Regions from separate parts of the Homo sapiens genome. Here regions 2 and 3 are each reported to be linked to region 1. Evidence: microRNA targets listed by miRTarBase, many of them from high-throughput screens and not tested one by one. Region 1 holds a microRNA gene; each other region holds the end of a gene's coding sequence.
Evidence for each region. The annotated mature microRNA hsa-miR-505-5p reads GGGAGCCAGGAAGUAUUGAUGU and lies in region 1 at 2,462-2,483, opposite strand. An mRNA with a match to its seed (bases 2 to 7 or 8) in the 3' UTR can be bound and repressed. Matches are read on the target gene's strand: a 7mer-m8 pairs with bases 2 to 8, a 7mer-A1 pairs with bases 2 to 7 and ends in A, and an 8mer does both.

Region 2: miRTarBase lists HEMK1 as a target of hsa-miR-505-5p. Seed matches in the 3' UTR shown: 8mer at 5,661-5,668, 7mer-m8 at 2,852-2,858, 7mer-A1 at 2,708-2,714 and 7mer-m8 at 2,589-2,595.
Region 3: the mRNA of TBC1D16 is a reported target of hsa-miR-505-5p. Seed matches in the 3' UTR shown: 7mer-A1 at 4,842-4,848 and 7mer-A1 at 4,878-4,884.

What each region holds. Positions count from the first base shown.
Region 1 is chrX:139,921,735-139,928,852 of GRCh38, forward strand. MIR505 (microRNA 505) reads right to left here and starts at 2,497; the gene lies at 2,414-2,497. All of the region lies in intron 1 of ATP11C (ATPase phospholipid transporting 11C (ATP11C blood group)), which reads right to left.
Region 2 is chr3:50,579,122-50,586,239 of GRCh38, reverse strand. It overlaps HEMK1 (HemK methyltransferase 1, mitochondrial release factors N(5)-glutamine), which reads right to left. Exons shown (of 11, transcript NM_016173.5): 9 at 6,301-6,396; 10 at 6,011-6,124; 11 at 1-5,859. The coding sequence ends at 5,823. Among named protein-coding and RNA genes, the nearest start is that of HEMK1, 13 kb to the right of the region's middle. RefSeq lists enhancers at 1,572-2,090, 3,447-3,946, 3,947-4,448.
Region 3 is chr17:79,934,818-79,941,935 of GRCh38, reverse strand. It overlaps TBC1D16 (TBC1 domain family member 16), which reads left to right. Exons shown (of 12, transcript NM_019020.4): 12 at 829-7,118. The coding sequence ends at 1,077. Among named protein-coding and RNA genes, the nearest start is that of LINC01979, 12 kb to the right of the region's middle.

The DNA.
Region 1 (7,118 bases):
TACTCAAGAAAATGAACTGCCATCCTGTCTCCCATGTGTAGTGAAAGTTACCAGAAATGTGTACCCATAATTTAAGCAGGGTAACTAAGTAAGCAGTCCTATAATAATATATGAAGTAGTGTCATGATATATTACCCCAAATATATATTTCATCCTGGTCTCTGCCTTACTGTCTCTGCACCAAATAAGGCCGGGCATGGCAGCTCACGCCAGTAATCCCAGCACTTTGGGAGGCTGAGTCAGGTGGATCACTTGAGGTCAGGAGTTCAAGACCAGCCTGGCCAACATGGTGAAACCCTGTCTCTCCTAAAAATACAAAAATTAGCCAGGTGTGGTGGCACACGCCTGTAGTCTCAGCTACTCAGGAGGCTGAGGCAGGAGAATCACTTGAACCCAGGAGGCAGAGGTTGCAGTGAGCCGAGATTGTGCCACTGCACTCCAGCCTGGGCAACAGAGCAAGACTGTCTCTCTCTCTCTCTCCTTCTCTAAATATATATATATATATATATATATATATATATATATATATATATATGCATTTTTTTTAAATGACATAAATTTACTGGAGTCATAGGTTTCAGAAAAGAGCATCTATGTATGGGAAGATTCCTATAGCTATTGTTGTGGAGACCTAAAGCCACCTGTTTTTAGCATCTCCTTTTTTAAAATCAAAATTACTACAGCAAACGTAAGGCATTGAAGATCGAGGTTTTGGTGTTTCTGCTGTGTCATGGACAGGATGTTTGTGTTCCCCTAAAATTCTTATGTGGAAATCCTAACTTCCAAGGTGACAGTACTAGGAGGTGAGGCATCTGACAGGTGATCAGGCCATGAAGGTGGAGCCCTCATAAATGGGATTAGTGCCCTAGGGAGCTCATTTCACTCTTTTTCTGCCATGTGAAGATACAATAAGTCACCAGTCTGCGACGTGAAGCCCCCTCACCAGTACCCAACCATGCTGGCATCCTGATCTTGGACTTCCAAGTTCCAGGATTGTGAGAAATAAATTTCTGTTGTGCATAAGCCACTGAATCTATGTTATACTTTTTATTTGTTTTGTTTTGTTTTTTTGAGGCAGAGTCTCGCTCTATTACTCAGGCTGGAGTGCAGTGGTGCCATCTCTGCTCACTGCAACCTCCACCTCCCTGGCTCAAGCAGTTCTCCAGCCTCAGCCTCCCGAGTAGCTGGGATTACAGGTGCTCTCCATCACACCTGGCTAATTTTTGTTTTTAGTAGAGATGGGGTTTCACCATGTTGGCCAGCCTGGTTTTGAACTCCTGACCTCAAATGATCCACCTGCCTCAGCCTCCCAAAGTGCTGGGATTACAGGCGTGAGCCACTGAGCCCCACCTGTTATACTTTTTTTTATAACAGCTCAAACTCATTTGGGGTTGGCATGTATGTTCTCTAAATTGACTGGTTCCCATGCTTTAAGTACAACAATGACCCTGCACCATTGCTCAGGTAATTGCCTCCTCCTGTAATGAGACTGCCCATCCCTAAAATCTCAGAACCTTCAGCCCTTTGGGTCCCCAGAGGCCCAGTTGACAGGCTACTTCCTCCATAAAGCTCTCCCCAAGAAATGAAGCCAGAGAGCCAGTGCCTCCTTCTGAATGCCTACTGCACTTACTGTGTATGTCCTTCAAAAGGATGGCTCTGGTGACCTACTGGCCTTGTGTGGAGGATGGTCCTGTGTGCTGGTCTTCTCTCTCTTCTACCAAACTGCAGGCTACTGGTGAGCAGGGCTGTACCTTACACACCTCTACAGCACCAAATAGGGGATGAGTGTTCCAAGAAAGCTGTGATTCACATGAATGTTTTCAGAAAAGAAGCCAGAATAAATTGTACACTATACTATAGATCCCTTAATCCTTATTACTGCAAAATACATTAATTGTGAAGCTTAAAGAACGTCCCCACTGCTTACACAACAGGTGTAGCTTACATAATCTGCTCTACCCAGCTGTTACTTACTTGTGGCAATTCCCTCCTGGCTTCTACTCCCTGTCGATATGTGGGATTACTGCACCATCCAGTATGATTTCCTTATTCCTTGCTCCAATCATAACAAATTTGTTAATTTTCCTTTATAACAGTAAAAATGGCTGAAACTCCAAATAACCAGAGATATCCCTAGGGTTTTCCATGACTATAAAACTCAAAAGACAATCCAGGATATAAACCAATATTTGTAAATATTGCCATAAAATTCATTGCTCAGAATTTTTTTTTTCCTATATAGTCTTCTTTGACAAAATACTGCAGTATTCCCACCATTTGGAAATTGTGTTACCCAAAAGGTATAGAATGGGATGAAGTGATGATGCAAATGAGTATTAGGACTATGAGCAAATGAATGGGAGCAGTAACAAAAGTCCAAAAGTCAGGAAAAATGAAAATCCACGAACTTGGCGATGCTCCAGAGAGGAAACCAGCAAGTGTTGACGCTAAACTGGCAGAAACATCAATACTTCCTGGCTCCCCCACTGGGTGCATCAATTTACCACCGGCAGGCTGCTCTTCTGCTTCAAGTGACAAACAGTAAGTGCTTTCAATGACAGTATGAAAAGGAATGACCCATAATCTAGAAGCATGGCTATGGGCAGCAAAGAAAAGATGTGATTGCTGGGAGTCTGTCTCAGCTGTACTGCTGATTAGCTTAATGATCTTGGACAAGTCATTTCCTTTCACTGAAAAAATACCAGTGTTTCACAATATTTGCGTGATGGAAAGAGTTAACATAGCAGGCCTGACACTGCTATTCTTAGTAAGGCCTGTTTGCAAGGTTGGTCCTTGGCTGGTGTCTGGGGACTTGGATTTTGGGAGGGTTTCCATCACCCTGATAAGAGTGGCTCACTCTGCTTAAGCTGTGTAAACAATAGGGTTTACACTGAATACCTGCTTTCCTCCTTGGGGTCTGGAATTTTGCTGTGTACCAGGTGGAGGGTGCCTGTGTGACCAGCTCCCACTAAAAACCCTGGGTACTGAATCTCTAATAAGCTTCCCTAGTAGACATTTCACACAAGTTGTCAAAACTCATTTGCTAGAGGAATTAAGCATGACCTGTGTGATTTCAGTGAAAGAGGACTGGAAGCTTGCACATGGTTTCCTCCAGACTTGGCCCCAATGAGCCTTTTCCCGTTACTGACTTTGCTCTGTATCCTTTTGCTATAATAAATCACATCCGCAAGCGTTTCTATGTACTGAGTTCTGCCAGTGAATCAACAAACCTAGGCCGGTTTTGAGGACCTCTGTCACAATTGGTATAGTGTTGAATAGTCTACCAAACGTTTTTTTCAACAGTCTTGTGAAATAGGTATTATTATTCCCATTCTATCGATGAAGAAACTGAAGTTCAAAAAGGTGAACAGAGAGTGTGCCCAGAAAATAAATATTTCCGTGTTTACTATATTATATATTGCTGTTCTCAAATTTTAGTGAACCTAAGAACCACTTGGAATGCTTGTTAAAAACAGTTTCTTGGAGTCTGTCACCCAAGACTTGGATTCAGTAAGTTCAAGGCCCAGGAATCTGTATTTATAGTAAGCATACAGGATTATTATTATTTGAGATGGAGTTTTGCTCTTGTTGCCCAGGCTGGAGTGCAATGGCACGATCTCGGCTCAGTGCAACCTCTGCCTCCCAGGTTCAAGTGATTCTCCCGCCTCAGCCTCTCAAGTAGCTGGGATTACAGGCCTGTGCTACCACTCCTGGCTAATTTTGTAGCCCAGTCTGAAATGCATAAGCTTCTTGGTGGCTGCTTCCTAAACTGATCATTCTTCATCTGTTATTACTGACTCAGACTGTGTTACCAATTCAGCTCAAAACAATTAAACAAGTATTAATTGAACATCTACTGTTTACCTGATGCTGTGCTAACTGCAAGATCATTTTCAAGAACACTTCTGATTTTTCCAAGAATACCTTGGTAAAGAGAAAGGGACTAGGAAAACATTGCCACATTAATACTTTATGACAACATATAATAGAGACGTCTAAAAAACAAATGATGATATCTGCTTGAACAGCAATATCATCAACATCACCAATCCTCCCATATTCCATTAAATACATATGGCACAAGAAATCAATGATTTCTACTTCACAAATACAGGTTAACCTTCTAAATCTGGAAATCCACGGTCCATTATCATTTATAAATCACATCTTCTATTATCAAGAAGTCAGCCGACCCAGTAATCCGTCCATACACTGCAATAATTGAGGGGCTGTCTGCCAATGTGTGGGCATAGGGCATCCTGTGCCCATATCTGCAGTGCTGAGCACTCATTCATCATTAAGCTGCAGCAGTGTTAACATATGCTGCAGTTGTGCCAGTATGTTTTGTTTTACGATCACCGCTAATCTACCCTTATACCAGGCCAAGAAGGTAAATGTTAAGTGAAAGGAAATAAACTCGAGAGCCAGCACCTAATTCATTTGTGGAAGCCCAGAACCTCCCTCCACCTAACCAGAAAAACTCCCCCAGTCTCGAGGGTTCCAGATGTAAAAGGTTCATCTGTATAAAGCACTACAGATGTACAGGAAATTCCACCACCTTGAAGAAAAAAATAGTATTTTTTTTTTATATCCCATGCATTCACCCTCTTTGAGAGAACTGAATAACCATGTTAGACAAGCAATGAGCCTTGATTTTTTCCATCACTCAACAAACCAGTATTTGATTTCACTCAGTGGGCTAGTTCTTTGCACATCATGCAGACACAGCAAGGTTAGTTATGGTTCTTTCAGGGGCCACTGGCCATCCTTTACCTCCTAGAACCCACTGCTCAGCAGGTGGTAAACTGGCAGCTTTTTGAAAAAACAAGCTCTTTTGAACAGTTGCATCAATATAAAAATGGCCAGCTTCACCTGCCCAAATCTCAATTCAGCTAAAAGTTAATTAGGAACACTGGAAACTACCTGGTATATAGGCACTCAATATTACTCACTAAATGGCTGAATTATTAGCAATAAGCATAAACAAAAGGAACAAACAGTAAACACTTACAGAAAGTATTCAGGACACATTCAGAGTTTTATGTTGCTTAGTCACTAAAAGGTAGATCAGGAAAAAAGAAGACAAAACCTGCTTTCACTTGTGTAAAGATTTATTTCAAGTTACAGTGGTTCATTTCTAAATAAGTTTCCCACCTTGCGTGGGGTCAGCCTAGCATCTATTTGCAAAAGAGCAGTTTGCCATGCGTAGGTCAGATGAAAGGAGACAAATGCAAGAAACTCCTTTTTAACTGACATCCAAACAACCAGAAAATAACTGATATTGTACAATCTATTTTTAGTAGAAAGAAAAATGACAAGTATGTAATAGTAACTTATTCACAAAGATCAAATTTCATGGTATGTCACAAATGTATTCAATGCAATGCAGTTACCATGCCCTCTATATCTATAGTTGTGTATGTAATGATAATTACAGCTCAGGAAGACAGGAACCTTGTCTGTCTTGCTCATCTACGACCCCAGGATTGACTGCAGTGCCCAGCACATAGTAGGTGCTCAGTGAATATTTGCTGAATGATAATTGCTCTGCAAAACCATACAATGCCTTAATCATCTAAGAAAGAGGCCAGGCATGCTGGCTCTTGCCTGTAATTCCAGCACTTTGGGAGGCCGAGGTAGGGAAATCGCCTGAGGTCAAGAGCTCGAGACTAGCCTGGCCAACATGGTGAAACCCCGTTTCTACTAAAAAATACAAAAAATTAGCCAGGCGTGGTGGCAGGCGCCTGTAATCCCAGCTACTAGGGGGGCTGAGGCAGGAGAATCGCTTGAACTCGTGAGGCGGAGGTTGCAGTGAGCCAAGATCGTGCCATTGCACTCCAGCCTGGATGACAAGAGTAAGACTCTGTCTCAAAAAAAATAACAATAAAAATAAAAATAAATAAAAGAAGGGGATATTTTGTGGCCGGGCTCATGCAGATGGCAGATCCTGGGACTTCTCAGCCTCTGTAACTGCATGATCCAATTCCCATAATAAATCTCAAAAAAAAGGAAAAAAAAAAAGATTATACTATGGTCAGTATAGCTTTCGGCATTAGATGTATTTATTCTAATTCTTAGAATACTAGTAATGTATACGGTATACCCCAACTAACAAGAACTCATTCTTTGCTCATTCTGCATAAGAGCGGGTTTACAATAATCACTATCTGTAAGTAAAGGTTATTATTTATGGGATACATACAAAAGTTGTTCTTTCAAAAAATATTTTACTGAACACCTACTAGGGACCAGGCACTGTGCTAGGAGCTAAGAACACACTGTGAACTGTCCCTGTCTAGGACAGCCTTTCTCAATTAGGGTTCCTTCACTCCAGCTGCGCAGGAAAATGTTAATTTATTACTAACAATGCATGTCCTAGGGCATCAGTGCCAATTCTCTCCATGTTGAGAAAGACTAGGGAGCCATACAAGTTAAAAGGCAATTATAACACAATATGATTTAAAAAAAAAAAGTTGCTTTTAAGTATGGTCAAGTTCAACTGCTAAACCTAGACCTCTATGAACAGCCATGTGGGAGCCGAGATACACAGACCATTTGTAATAGTTGTGCAAATGTAAAAATATTGCAATACATACATACAGATATATTTCTAAACACAGTAAAATAAAATCAATATTTTCCCGCTCGTCAATGTCAGGCCAGGATTATTAGTAAAGTGAAACAGAAAAAAAAAAATGTTTAATTACTCTGATAGTTTAAAGGGGAAACTAAAAACCTTCTTGCTCCTGGGGAAAAAACAAAGCAATTACCTGAACTATTTTCTTAATTGCCTCCATATATTGCTTCATTAGACTAGCCTTGCCTTGGACTCAAAGCAATAAATTAGCTACCTATTTCATTAATTCTTATTTTGTATTTTTTAGTCTTATTTTAAATTTCCATTCTTCCTTATGCAGTCTAATTTCTTCCTAGTCCTGGGCATCTTCTGTGTGATATTATGATTATATGCTACATGCTTTATGAAACCAAAGCAGTTTAAGGGCTTCTAGAATCAGAGATTTAAATGTACTCCAGTATTTCACACTCACAATTAAGCTTTCATGTATCAAAGGTCTAGAAATGCATACCTGTTAACTATCACTGACAAGCTAAACTGA
Region 2 (7,118 bases), not on the chromosome of region 1:
CTTCTGATTTCTGGTTATGAGGCCAAAGATCCCAAAGGTCCTTCCAGACACCTCAGGAGGGCCCTGGGGGGCAGAGGCTGGGGGCTGTACAGCCAATTACCTCAGAGGGGAAGGCACCCACTCATTCCGCAAGCGGGGGAAATCCTGCTCTCCTCCCACAGCTACCAGAGCTTCAGATGGGACTCAGATCTGTCTGCACACCCAGGGCTACAGTTGGCCTAATGTGACTCTTACCTGCCCATAAACCTGGCCCAGAGGGCTTTATGGGCCAGAATCCCTGGGTTTAGTAGCTACATGGACAGCCATATGAGCACCACCTAATTGACTTAATTAACTAACCCCAGGCCTTTGGAAGCAATAGGAGATGAGAGCATCATACTGGGAGTCAGGAGTCAAGTGCTGTGTTACTTCAAGTAAGCCCCATCCCTCTCTGGGAAAAAAGATCAGGGATTGAATATAAGTCTTGCCATGATCCACCCCTTCCAGTATAAACAGGCCCTCCTGGCTTCATCCAAAGCGTATCCAGGTGATTTGGGGCCAAGCTGACCCTTGAACCCAGGTGTCCATGCTCTCTGTCCCCCAGCTTCTCAGCTCTGAAACCCAGCATGAGGCCCATGTCTGGCCTCCCAGTAGCTCTCCATGTGGCTCCTGGGTTAGGACTGGCTTCAGGAGCCCCAAGCCTTGGCTGGGTGGGATGGTGTCTCCAGAGTCCTTTAGTACCCCTGGAAAGGGAGGTCCTAGTCCCAGCTTGGACAGGGACAGGGCTGAGGGCACCAGTTGGCCAATTCAGTTTTAGGAACCAGGAGGTTGAGAACCCCAGGGATAGCCCCACTCCACCATAGGAACAGAATGGTGACACAGCTCTGCTCAGGCCTATGGCTTACATGGAGGGGCCAGGCCCATTAGCTCAAAGTCAGGGGCTGCTGTGCTCATTTCACAGATGCAGTACCTGCAACCCAGAGAGTACAGGGCCCCTGCTCATCCTCACACACCCAAGGGGTCCTGGGCCAGTCACATAACTCCACAGGAGAGCAGGAACAGGCTTGGTCCCAGTCTCTGAGGTCCTCTCTGGACCCAGTCTCTGGAGATGGGCCATGGAGGCCAGCCTTGCACTTTCTCCCCACATCCCAGTCCCATTCCTCACCCACTCCCTTCTGGGACCCATGCTGGTCAGTCTTTCAGTCTTCTCACTCTGGGAAAGGGCCACCTCTCTCCAAATATGAGTAAAAAAAGGGGGGGCCTGGGCAGTTTAGGTCTGAAGGTTGAGGAAGAGTTCCCCTGGCCACATCACCTATCAGAAGAGAGGTGGTTAAGGCAATTTATCATGACTCTCAAAATTCTTCCAGCCTCTGCCCATTTCCACGTTGCAATTCCAAAGCCACTTCAATCAGTAGGCGTGTGTTACAGCAGCACTCTAATTTGGGCACCACAATCTATATTCGTTTCCCGTGGCTGCTGTAACAAATTATCACACATGTGTTTTCACACATGTGAAAACAACACAAATTTATGATCTTACTGTTCTGGAGGTCAGCAATCTGAAATCAGTTTCACAGGGCTTAAAATCAAGGTATTGGCAGGACTGCATTCTTCTTGAGGCCCCAGAGGAGAAGAGGCTGTCTGCATTCCTCGGCTCATGGCTCTTCCTCCAGCAATTGCATCACTCTGACCTCTGCTTCCATTGTTACATACATTTTCTTCCGTCACTCTGACACTCCTGCCTCCTTTACAGAGGCCCTTGTGATTATACTCAGTTTACCTGAAAAATCCAGGATACTCCTTCCATCTCAAGATCCTTAATCACATCTGCAAAGTCCATTTTGCTATGTGAAGGTAATATAGTCACATGTTAAGGTTTAGGTGATTAAGACACTGCCATTTTGGGGGGTCACTGTTCAGCCTACCAGAGCAGGGGTAGAGTTGCTTTGACAGTCCCAAATCCAGTTCAGGGGGCTTGTCCAGGGCAGAAGGTCATGAGGAGGAGATCAGGTCACTGTCCTAGCCAGGACTCTGGCTGGGGGCTGGCTGAAGCCAAGAGCTCCAGGAAACCTGGCGCCTGCTCCTACTGCCGCCAAGGACAGCCTGTTCTCCTGGTGTGGCTGTTGCGCAGGGATCAGGTGCACTTGAGTCTTCGAAGTGGCCATTGCTCAACTTGAATGGCTGCCTGGGTCGGGCAGAAGGCCAGGTCCTCATGGCTTCCCATCCCTAATGACCGGAATACATGGGCTGCCAGGTCAGATGTGGGCCACATGGGAAGTCCCAGCTCTATTCTAGAAAATGCATGTACCATCAGCTTACTGATAGACATTTACTGAACTTGGGTATGCCAGATCCACAGGGGGCCCCAGAGATGAGGGGGATAAGAAGGTTTCTGAAGGCATGGTACAGAAGGTGCCAGCAGAGGTATGGGCTAGGGGAGGCAGGGAGAGCACAGAGCAGGCATCCTAAAGGAGGCAGCATTTGTGTTGGAGCTTGAAGAAGTGGATTGTTTGCACCGCCTGGGCAAAGGGAAGGTGTGTGTTCAGGGCATCGAGAGTACTGCACAAAGGCTGAAGCCCAGGGCAGTAGAGAAGAGAATCCACTAAGAAGGAGCCAATGAAGAAAAAAAAGAGAAAAGAATCGAAGGTGGATAGGGAAAGACATGCTGTCCCGCAGAGGTTAAAGGGGTTCTCACCTCAAGCCAGCAGTTCTCAAACCTTGTCAGCAGTGGAGCCCTTTGTTCTGATGACAGCCTACTCAGAGCACTGATGGGGCCTTGGGAGGGGCCCCCAGGGCTTTTCCCACAGTTGTCCTCCCCCACCTCTTCAGAACTGGATTCCATAGGACACAAGAGAACACACTTAAGTCATGGGGAGCCAGCTAAGTGTTTGGGGCAAGGATTGGGAGCAGCCAATAGCCCAGGGTCCAGGTGGGGGTAAAGGAGCAAAAAAGAGTATTTTTTGCATTTAGGGGGTTCGGGGCCTATTTCAATAAGGCAGCTGTATGAGACCCATGGAGAAACCCACTGACAACTGGGAAAAGCATCCAACTGTGAGACAAGGCCTCAGTTTCCCCAACTATCAGAAGAGGAGATAGAATTACTCTCCCAGAGTACATCAAACAGGGACTCCTACACTCCTGTCTATGCTCTGGGCTCTGGCTGAAGGAGGCTGCACGGGCAGTGGGCACATCTCTCAAGACCTCAGGGGCTTGCACAGCCTGGACTCCATCAGCTCCATGTCCTCCTCCCATTCTGCCTGCAAGTGCTCCTTGACATATGCTGGTGGTGGTGGGGAGGCTGTTCGAGTCTCTGGCTTTGGCCTCAGGAGCAAGGGAGGGGATAGGGCAGGTGGGCCTGGCTTTCCCTGAGCTAGAGCCACTGGCTGCCCTGGCCTGGGCCTCAAGGCACTGGGGCCATAGTGAGGAGAGGCTGAGGGGAGATGTAGGCTGCCAGGCTACCAGCCTGCTGGCTCCATCTCTAGACAACAGTGAGGAGTCAAGAGCCCAAGACTGAAACTCCTGCCTTCCCTTCTTTCCAGACTGCCTTGTATCCCTGCCTGCCTTATGTTGGTCCCATGCATCAGATGGACGCCTGAGGGCACTGGGTCCTTCCTCCCTGTGTCTGCCCTCCGAGGAAGGCAAGGAAAAATGCCACAATGTGCCAAGCCAGGCACATCCCATGGGCTCCTCACATGCATCCTATAAAATAAAGCATTAAGTCCCATTTCTCAGCCTTAGAAGCCAAGGCTGAGTGAGGTGAAGTCATCTGCCCAAGGTCACATCCTCGTGAGGGGCAGATTCTGGGATTGAAATCCAGGCTGGTGTGGCTCCAACATCTGGGCTCAACGTCCAGGGCCCAATCAAGCCAGTGGCTGCAGGCTTGAGGCCCCGCCTGCCAGTCCTCTTGGCTTGGACCTTTTCCTCAGCAGAGTCAAGCTGCACATTTTTCTGGGCAGAAAGTTGTGCCCGAGGCCGGCTCCTGCTTGTGGCCCCAGCTGCCCCGACAGTGTCACTCTCCAACACTGCACTCTCTTCTGGTGCAACATCCACAAGCTCGCCAAGGCCCTTCCTCAGGAATGGGCCTGAGGCCAGGAGGGAGAGACCATCAGGGAAGCCAGGACTGGCTGAGGTGTAGGGGGGCGACAGACTGCTCCGAGGTCAGGGCAGCTACCCTGAGATGCTGCTGAAGACAGCAAGAGCCAAAGGGCACAAGGAGAAAGACAGAAAGGGCAATACTGGTGAGGACCTTAGCAGGCAAAGGTCTGTGAGCATGGGGGACTAAGGAAGTGGGGAGCCTTGCCCTGGTTGTGCACCCCCTTCGCCCTCCCCACCCAGGTTCCTTCTGGAGCAGCCTCCTTAAAGGAAGCCAGGGGCAGCTCAGAGTCCATGCAGCTGGGGCTGGGCACAGGGCAGGACACTGGGGCACTGGGAGCTGCAGTGTGACCTCTACCAAATGTGTCCTCCAGCCATAGTGCAGGGCAACACTTAGGCTGGGTATGACTCCAGCAATATAGGCTCCCCAAAGGGAGGGATCTAACTTACTGTCTCCACTTGGTCACTGTCATGTGACCTCAGGCAGTACATACCTTCTCTTGCTCTCCATGCCTGGCGAATGGACATTCAGATGCCAGCATGCACATTCCACTTGACTAAGAGTAAAGAGGTTGCCAGTTGGCGTTGGCCCTGGACTCAGAAGAGCCAGCTTCTCATAGGGAAAGGAGTTGCCCAAGGTCCCACTGCAGGACACAGCCCTGGAACTCAGCTCTCCCAGCTGCAGCAGAGGATGCTGCCTATTGGACCATACTGCCCATCAGACCATACTGCCAGGCCCTGGGAAGTGCCAGGGTGGCAGGGGGCAGTCTAGTGGAATGAGACAGCCTGGTTTGCCATGTTTCTTAGGACCCACCCTGATGTAGGCTCACATCACCAGCACTCACCAACCTAGAGATTTCCTGTCGCTGTTGACAGGAAGGCTGGATCTGCAGGCCTCCTGGTGGCCATGAGTCTGCACAGACCAGAGCTGGGGTGGAGGCCACAACCCTGTGCCCAGTATCTCAGCTTCTCACTCTCCCCAGCCCCAACCAGGGACACATGGGTTATTTGAAACCCCAGGGGGTCAACTCGGGAGGGATGTTTTAGCTAAAAGCTATGGGGATAAAAAGGAAACACCCCTCACTGGCTCAAGCCTTCAGTTAAATGAACGTGGATGTGCGACCCAGGAACTGTGCAGCAAAGACCTCCAGACCCTCCCCTCCAGAAAGCAGGCAGTCATCCTTGAGCCAAAACGCAGATGAGCTTCCTGTGCTCGAGCCAGGCTTGGCCAGGGAATTGTGTACGCATGCACCCAGGGCAGTGGAGGACTAATCAATCCCTGGGAGTGAGCTGCTCTATGCCAGGACCCATGGTATCCAAGGCCAGGAGTGAGGACTCACGTGCCTTCCTCCACACTGCACCCCCACACCACTACCAAGCAGGGGACTGACGGCCAGCCCTGCTGGGGCAGAAGGAAACCCTTGCCCCAGTGCTACCTGGGAGTAAGGGGGTCAGGGGACCTGCAAGTCATGGACAAAACATTAGGTCACCATTTGTTAGTCTCTCAATACTTTACTGGCCATATCCCCCGATACCCCCACAGCAATTTCACCAACACAGAGCAACTGCCCTCAGCCACTCTGATGTGATGGAGCCAATCCAGGTGTCCTAGAAATATCCTAGAAATGCAGAGCATGGGGAAATCACAGAACCCTGGGAAATGCCATAAGAACCTGGGCTCTGGAAAGTGCCATCCACCTCCCCTCTGGTCAGGCTGGCGGCACTGACAAGGCATCCACAGGGCAGCCATGCTATGGCCCAGACCTCCGGATATGCAGGAACCGGGGCCTGAGGAGACAGGGACAGGGGCTGGTTACCACCTGGGCCTCAGGGAATGAACAGGAAGTGGGAACAGCACACTCTCCTGACAGCCAGGGCTGAGGATGGCCCCAGTGGAAAGACCAGCATGCTACAGGGCTAAAGGGGGCTAGGATCTTACCTCCCACAGAAGTCCCTGCGCACAGCCACAAGATTAAGGTACAGGTCAGGCCGGCTCTGAAGCCAGCTGCTGACAAGCTCCGGGTGCCTTGGGTCCACTTCTAAGAAGATACTACTACATGGGGGAGAAATGGGTGGGCTCAGCAGGACAGGTCTGGCGCCTGCCCTTCTGGGCTGCTTGGGCTGGCGAGGTGAGGGTCCTGTGCTGACCTCTGCCAGGGCCTGCCCAGTACACATTAGGAGCAGAGGAGCCTGCTGGGGACAGACCTAGGAGACCCATCCCATTCATACCCAGAGTCTTTCAGGAGCCGGGGTGCCAAGGCCAGAATGTGGGTAATGATGTCCATGCCCTCCTCCCCACCATCCAGGGCCGCGGGGTCTTCATAGCTGAAAGGCAAAGCAGTGGGAGGTGACAGCCTGAGAAAGGGGTATCTGAAATGCATGGAGGGCATGGGCAAGGCCTCCATGAATGGGGCCCTGTGGAACTTACACTCTGGGCTGAAGGGCAAATCTGAGGACCCAGAGAAGGAGGGCCCCAAATGGGTGGCAGCTCCTCTTCTCTTCCTCCCATGGGCAGCACCCTACCAGGCAGCGCCAGGCATGCTTGCTGAATCCCACTGGCTGATGGCCTCTCTTGATGCACTGACTCATGTCAGGGCATGAGTGTCTCCCCACAGGCTGCTCCTCTTCTTGGTCTGGGAGATCTGGGGCTAGCCCTGACCACTCCTGAGAGCCCAGAAAGGGAGAGCCAACACCCCAGCCCCATCCAACATGACTGCTGCCCCATCCAGGACTCCTGGGCTGCCCCTGGTTCTCAGCCCCTGTGTAAGAGCAGGATGGCCTGGCACAAAGCTAGCCTGGGGCCAGCTTTTAGTCCCGGCTTTCCCACTGAGCCCCCATGCGACCACAGACAAGACACCTTCCCTCTCTGGGCCTCAGTATTCTATAAAATGATGCGCCCATCTACTGAGCACCCTGTATGAGCCCTCCACTGTGTTTGATGCTTTCAAGTCGTCACTGAGTCCTCCCGTGGCCCTGCAGAGCACTACCTCTCTTTTTCTAGAGGCAGGAAACAGGTCCAGAGAGGTTCGGTGGCTGTCCAGTAGTTT
Region 3 (7,118 bases), not on the chromosome of region 1:
ATGGCCCCCCAGCACGTGCCCTCCCCCACCCATAGCACTGGGGGCTCCCCACTAAGGCCTCGTGGTCAGCACCTGTCTCGGCCTGGCTGTGTCACCTCACTTTCCTGGGGTGCCAGCCCTGACACAGGAGCCTCCCTCGCTGGCTGAGGAGGGAACGAATTCACCGGGGCTGACGGACAGGACAGGTTCCCTACCCTGGGGTACCTCGCTTACAACCCAGAACTGGGAACACTGAGAAGGAGGCTGGACCTGGGGACAGGGTGGCCAGAATACTGGGGACCTTGGGCTTTGGCCCCCTCCCCCACTTCCCAGACGCCTCCTGGAGATGCTGCCCGTTAGCTCTCTGGTGGTCCTCAGGGCACTGAGCGGGGGTCCCGAGGTCGGTGGTGTCCTCTGGCACAGGACACAGATCCTGCAGGAGCTGAGAGGCTGCTGGGGGTGGGGGGTGGAGCAAGGTGCGGGGGAAGAAGAGAGGGGTGCTGCCAAAGGGACAGGTGGGCTTGGCTGGACGCCACCCGGCCCTGTGCTGGTGTTGGTCCTGTTCACCCTCCTGAATGAAGCCCATTCAAGGGCCTTGTTCACCTCGAGCCACCTGTGAGCACAGCCCGAGTGCCTTGTGGGTCCCATCACTGCAGCCACCTAAGACCCAGGGCCCCGTGGTGCCGGTGATGGTGGGAGATGCAGGCAGAGCCCTCAGTCCAGGACTCGGTGAGCCCCCGAGGTGCAGGCCGTTGTTGCTGCTGTTGCTGTCTTTGGCCACTCCCATGGGGACCCTAGGCTGCCAGGCTGTCCCCCGGCCCCTCCTCACCCCCCGTCCTCTGTCTGCAGGCGAGGAGTTTGCTGTACCAGTTCCGCCTCCTGCCCCGGATCCCCTGCAGCCTGCACGATCTGTGTAAGCTGTGCGGGTCAGGCATGTGGGACAGCGGCTCCATGCCCGCGGTGGAGTGCACCGGCCACCATCCCGGCTCGGAGAGCTGTCCCTACGGGGGCACGGTGGAGATGCCTTCCCCCAAGTCCCTGAGGGAAGGCAAGAAGGGCCCAAAGACGCCGCAGGACGGCTTCGGCTTCCGCAGATAGGTCGGGCCCCCGACACCGGACAGGGGTTGAGGGGACCTCCTCAGAGGCCCTGGGCACGGGAGGGGGTGGGGCTGGGCGTGAAGGGGACAGGGGACGGTAGAAACCTAAGGAAAATGCTTTTGGGCAACATGAGAGGAACCTTTTCATATTAATGACAAAATTAGAGTCTGGAAGTGACAGAAGTCAGATCTACAGCCACCCAGAGGAAAGTCAGCTCCTGAAACGCTGCAGTGGAACGCGCAGCCACCGCACCTGAGACGCAGGCTGGCTGGGCTCTCCTGCTGGCTGCCCTGGAGGATTTCAACATGTCCCAGGATTTGCTCCACCCTCGAGGGCAGCCAGACAGCGTCGCCAGGCAATGAGGAAAGCAGAGACAGGAGAGGAAGGCCTCACTCACCCACTGCGTCGAGGGCTGCAGAACACAGCGGGGTCCTGTCCAGGCCCAGGGACATCTTTGCAAGCCAGACACACTTCCTCTTGAGACCTCGTTCTCTCGGAGTGAGCCAAACACACTTCCCAAAACGTCCCCAGCCACAGCTGGGATGCCGATGGAAAGGCATCTGCCATAAAAGAAAAGCAAAAGATAAAAAGCCCAACCGATGTGGGGATAGAGAGGCGGAAGAGCAGTCAGGCTTGAGGAGCTGGCGCTTGTAATGTTTATCCGTTTAAACATTTCGTCCTCCTGGTACACGAAGGGAACTGTCTGCCCAGGAGCCTGAGCCTCAGGCTGTTGGAGAAGCATCTGATGCCTTTTTCTTTGCTGGGGGTCTTCTACGTGAGGTTCCTTGGCGTTGTTTAAGGTCAACTCCACCAAATACAGCAACCAGCTGGGGCTTGAATGGGTCGATGTGTGCGTGTGTCCCTGCGTGCATGCATGCATGCACACGTGCGTGCGTGTTTGTGTTTGCAAGATCCTCTGACAATGATCTGCTTTGTCCCAGGGACGTGGTAGTGTATTAGCTGACCAACCAAGACAAGGACACCTGGAAATAGTTAGACTCTTCCACTTCCCTTCAGGACCTGTGAACTCAGATATGTAAGTCAGCTTCTCAGGTGGTCGGACGTGAGAGCGACCACAGTGAAGGAGCCAGCACTCAGGGCTCTCTGCCTTCTATGTGGGAATGAGGTCTTCCCAACAGACTCTCCCTCTTCCAAAAGATTGTGTATCAGTTGCTCCTTCTGGGATTTAGAGATGGACAGAAAAGGGTGTGCGATCTATGCTGTGAGAACTCCCAGCCAGCTTAGAAGTGTCGAGCCATTTGCACAGAAAGCCACTCCTTGAGCGAGGAGACCAAATCCCTCCTGAAATCCTCCATCGCGTCCTTCTGGGGAGAAAAACCCTTGATGTGCTGAGAACCATCATGGGGACCAGGATAGAAGGCTTCTTCCCACTCAAAGCTTTTCTCCCTGGAGGGTGGGCACTGCTGGGCCATGCCACTTCAAAGCAGTGTTCCTCAGCAGGAAAGCGGAGGTCACCACTTACCGGCCTCCTCCACCTTCTCGGCTTCTCTTTTCTCCATGAACCCAGGTCGTCCAGCAGGTACTTCCAAGTTCCCAGGTCTGTCTGCCTAAGAGCCTTTTGAGGAGACCGTCCTGGAGCCCCATCAGTGCCCAGATCCTGGGGTACCGACCATTGCTGTCTAGCAGTGGGGGATCCTGTGGTGGGAATGGGGTGGGCTTCTCATCCATGTTGCTTCTGGGAAGAGAGGGTTGCCTTTCTGGGCTAGGGAGGTGGCTGGAGCTTCTGCCCTGACCCTCCGCTAGAAACCAGTTATATCCATTGCCACAGCAATACTGTGTAACAAATCCGCCAACACTCGGTGGCCTGCAACAGTCAGCACTGATCTAGGGCAGGAGTCAGCAGTCTGGGCAGGGTGATTCTTCTGGTCTAGGCTGGGCTTGTTTGTTTAGGGCCAGTGGGTTGTTAAGTCCCAGGGGATGCTCATGGTGCAGAGGTCGGACCTGGCCCTGCTCTGTGGTCTCTTGCATCCCTCCTGCAGGCCAGCCATGGCACAGCCAAAGGCACGGAGGGAGAGACAGCAAGTGCCTTTCCAAGCCTTGGTGGACACCACACCTGCAGCTCTCCCCTTGGCCACAGCAAGTCACGTGGCTGGGCTCAGCATTAAGGGGTGGGGGACAGGCCTGCCACTTTATTGTCCGCTCTGCACAGTCGGGTGGCAGTAGGCTGAGAATTTGGAGGGCTAAACAACTGGGACTCTGGAGAGTCTGTGTCCTAATAATGCCTGCTTTGGAGCACTCCTTCCCCACCCGCCTGCTCCAGGGGAATAGCGTCCCTGGTCCTAGCATTTCACTAGATACCTCGTGCCTTTGAACCGCTGTGTTTGGGAGGGAGGAAGAGGATAGACAGGTCCAGGGCTCCCCTCACTTGGGAAGGTCCTAGTAGAAGGCATTCCTTCTGAGTCTCCTGGCCCTACAGCTTCTCACCCCTGCTGCTCCCCAAGACCTGACCCGGACCAATCAGCTGCATCTCTGCACCAAGTGCCACCCCCACCGTGCACTGCTCGCACCTCACGCTCCCCATGGGCTGGCCCGGACCCCAGTGAGGTCTGCACCTCTCGGACCAGCCAGGACCTCGGAAGCCATGAGCTGGGTGTTCAGGGCTTGGCGGAGGAGACGCTGCTCCGCGGGGGATGGAGAAGCCCCGCCCCTCCACAACTCCCTTAATCTGGATGCAATTAGAGGAAACCAGCCAAAAACCCCGCGGCAGCTGTTGCCCCGGGATTATTCCCAGCCAGCGAGAGGCATTAGGGCGATAATTCAGTCATTAGACTTCTAGCCTTCCCACCGCCAGAACGTGCAAATAGGGGATAATCAGCCCTGCACGGCCATCCTCAGCAATGCTGCTTATTTAACCCATTTTTTAAAATGACACTTAATGTTATTGGCTGGCGTACGTGTGTGCGCATACTTAAAAGTTGATGCGTGGTGCAGCTCTGCTGCTAATGTCTGCTGACAGCGTCGCCCGATGTTGCTCAGGGCCTCTGGGAAGAGGGGACACCTTTGATGTGGGCGTGCTGGCACCCAAGAGGCAACGTGGTCAGGCTCGATGCTTGCCAGCCCTGGAAGGTCCCGCCAGGGTTGGGGGGTCGGGTGAGCACTCAGAGATCTGGGGAGGAAGCGAGGAGCCTGGTGTCCTCACCAGGTGCAGAGGGGAAATGCGTACTGCTCCAGAAGGTTCTGACTCAAGTCTCGGCCCTGAGGACTCAGAACTCACAAGTCATGGATCAAGTACAGAGGGAGGGAGGGCCCCAGCCCACCCCTGCGGGGGAGGAGGAGGGTCTGAAGGTGGGAGGGCAGCTCCATGAGCAGCCACTGTTCCTGACCAGCCGAAGTGCCAGGCAGGGGGAGGTTTCCATGTCCAGGAGGGAGAGGACCTCCACCCTCTGACCTTTCAGTTTTCCATAGCAGCCCAGTGTGAAGCTCGGCGGGGGTGGGCAGGGCATCAGGACAAGATGAAGATGCTGGCTCTGGAATGAGGACTCCCCTTGGGCTAAGGGGTAGTGGCTGGCAGAGGTTGCCCAGCTCTTTTGGAGGCCACAGGGAATAGAGGTGGGGTGGTGCTTCCGTTCCTGTGAGGCCCGCCCCCCTGAGCCCCCTCGTCTGCTTCTTGTTTGGCAGAAATAGATGTGGGGCACAGCCCCTAGATGATGGGAATCTGCCCAAGCTGTGCCCTCTGGGGAATGAAATCTTGCTCCTCGTGCAGCTTCCCCTTTCCCTTGCGGGGTGGGGGCTGGGGGTGCCAAGGCTCCACCCTTGGAGGGGGTTGCTGGGGGTGCCAAGGCTCCACCCTTTGCTCGCTGGGCAGAGGGAAGGAAGCACCTCCCTGTATGCTCTGCAGGGGCCCCTGCAGGCCACTTTGCCTCAGAGGAAGGAGGAGAGGTCCCCTGGGAAAATGCGCACACACACACACACACACACACACACACACGCACATGCACACACGCACGCATGCACACACACACACACATATGTGCAGGGGTGCAGCCTAAGTCAGTGGAGCCAGGACTGGCTGCGCAGCTGGGCCTGCCCCATTCTTGGAGTCCCCAGGGAATGAGCCTCAGGATCCACTTCGTCCCTTGTTTCTAAGCCAGGCTGCACGGCCGTTCCTGGGTGTGAAAGCATTCTGTCCTGTCTCCAGTCAGAGGGAACCGCCCCCAAACTAGAAAGCTAATTTCCCCCGAAGGTTCATGAAGCCAGAGGCATGCCCTTGGGGGTTGGTCGGGAGAAGGGTGAGAGGCAGTGCTGTGGAAGGGGCCTGGCCCCTGCTGCCTGCGATTCTCCCCGGGTATGTGGCCTTCTGCCTCCTTCAGCCTCAGTTTCCTCACCTGTAACATGAGAATAATGATGCCTGCCTGCCCAGGCCACCTCCTGGGAGTGCATTGGGGACTCTAAGTGTAAAACTGTCATGAGGATGGTTTATGAAGTCCCAGGGACCACACCTGCCACTCAGGGAAGAGACCGCTGACCTCAGCCATCAGCCGTGTGCATCGTGAGGGGCAGCGAGCTCAGGACGGAGAGCTCTCCCTTGGTTCGGAGTCAGCACACCTGCACTCCCACACGCCCACCCAGCTGTGTGTCCTCCGCCGAGGGCGAGCCTCTCTGTGACTCTTCTGTAAAATGCACCCCATTCTGCCCACTCCTGCCACGAGACCCATCCTCTGCGATCCCGCCAGGCATGTGTGTGTGAATGCATGTGCAAAGCTCTCCATCAGAAGGGTGGTGTGGGCCCTGCAGGTCCTACCCCTCGGCCTTGAAGCTCCCTCGGGCTGCGGACTCTGCCTCCTGGGTCTGAGCATTAGAACCAGGAGAGGGGTGTCCCTGGGCAGAGCCAGGGGTGCAAACAGCCTGCAGCCATCTGGCCTTTTAAGTATAGTGTGTCGCATTTCCGGGTAGGAAGGTAGCATTTCAAGTTCAAAGAGAGGTCAAGTCATGCAACCATCTTTCCTCCAGCACTTTTGGGGTAAGGAGGACAGTTTTTGTTATGGTTTAGGGGAAATTTTCATGAAATTTCCACCATTACCAATAGATTACTGATGTCCATGGCAAGTGATCTGTTCTTGGTATTTTGTTTTGTTTTGTTTTGGTTTTTAAATGTAATCACCCATTGGTCAGGCCCAGGACTGGTCACCATGAGCTCTGCTAGCCACGGCCCCAACGATGCTTCCGGCTCTCATGGATTCCACAGCAAATAAAACTGTACTGACAACAGATGCACGCTGTACAGTGCCTCTGGAAGGTGCGGTGGGACTTGCTGGGTCAAAGCACGGCAGGCTCTGTGCTGGGCAAACAGGGCCCCGTGGCAGCCCAAGGGCAGCCTGCAGACGCCAGTGTGCCCGGCTTCTCCCATGTTCTGAGATGGGGGAGGGGAAGGTGTAAAAGAGAGCTGGATGGGGGCTGTGGGGACTGAGGGTCCTGGGAGGCTGGCCAGGGGCTCAGCAAGCGCCCACTTTGGGAGGCCTTGCCCTCTGGGCTGTGGTTGGACAGCACTAGGCCTGCAGGCTGGGCTGCCAGGAGGAAGAGCAGCTCCGGACCTCAGGCCCCCCCAGCAGGCGGCGATGGAGGGTGATGGGAGAATTGACGAGTGCTCGCGGGGTCTCACTCGGGAAAGGGCCGGTTAACTCTGAGCAACTGGGAGCCTCGCTCCCACCCCAGTGCCTGGAAACACAAACAGTATTTTATTGAGCCTTGGCTGCCGGGGCTCTGGTTTCAGGAAAAGCCTCAGTCCTGCATTTGTGAATTTTTAAGGAGGCAAACAAGGTGAATTTGACCTTCCTAGGAGTGGGAGTTAGGGAAAATTCAGGCTGCCCTACCAAGCCCTTGGAACCGTGCAGCAGGGGTCAGGGGAGGGATGGGCAAAGGCGGTTTGGCCCATGGAGCAGGTCTCCTGGTCCTCCCGGAGCACGGGGGGCGGGGAGCTCCAGCTCTTCATCAAGCGCCCTTTGGGGTTTCCAACTGTTTTCTGTTGTTCTCTGTGTGTCTTTTCCCCTTTTGCCTGGGGGCGGGGGCTGGAGGGGAACATA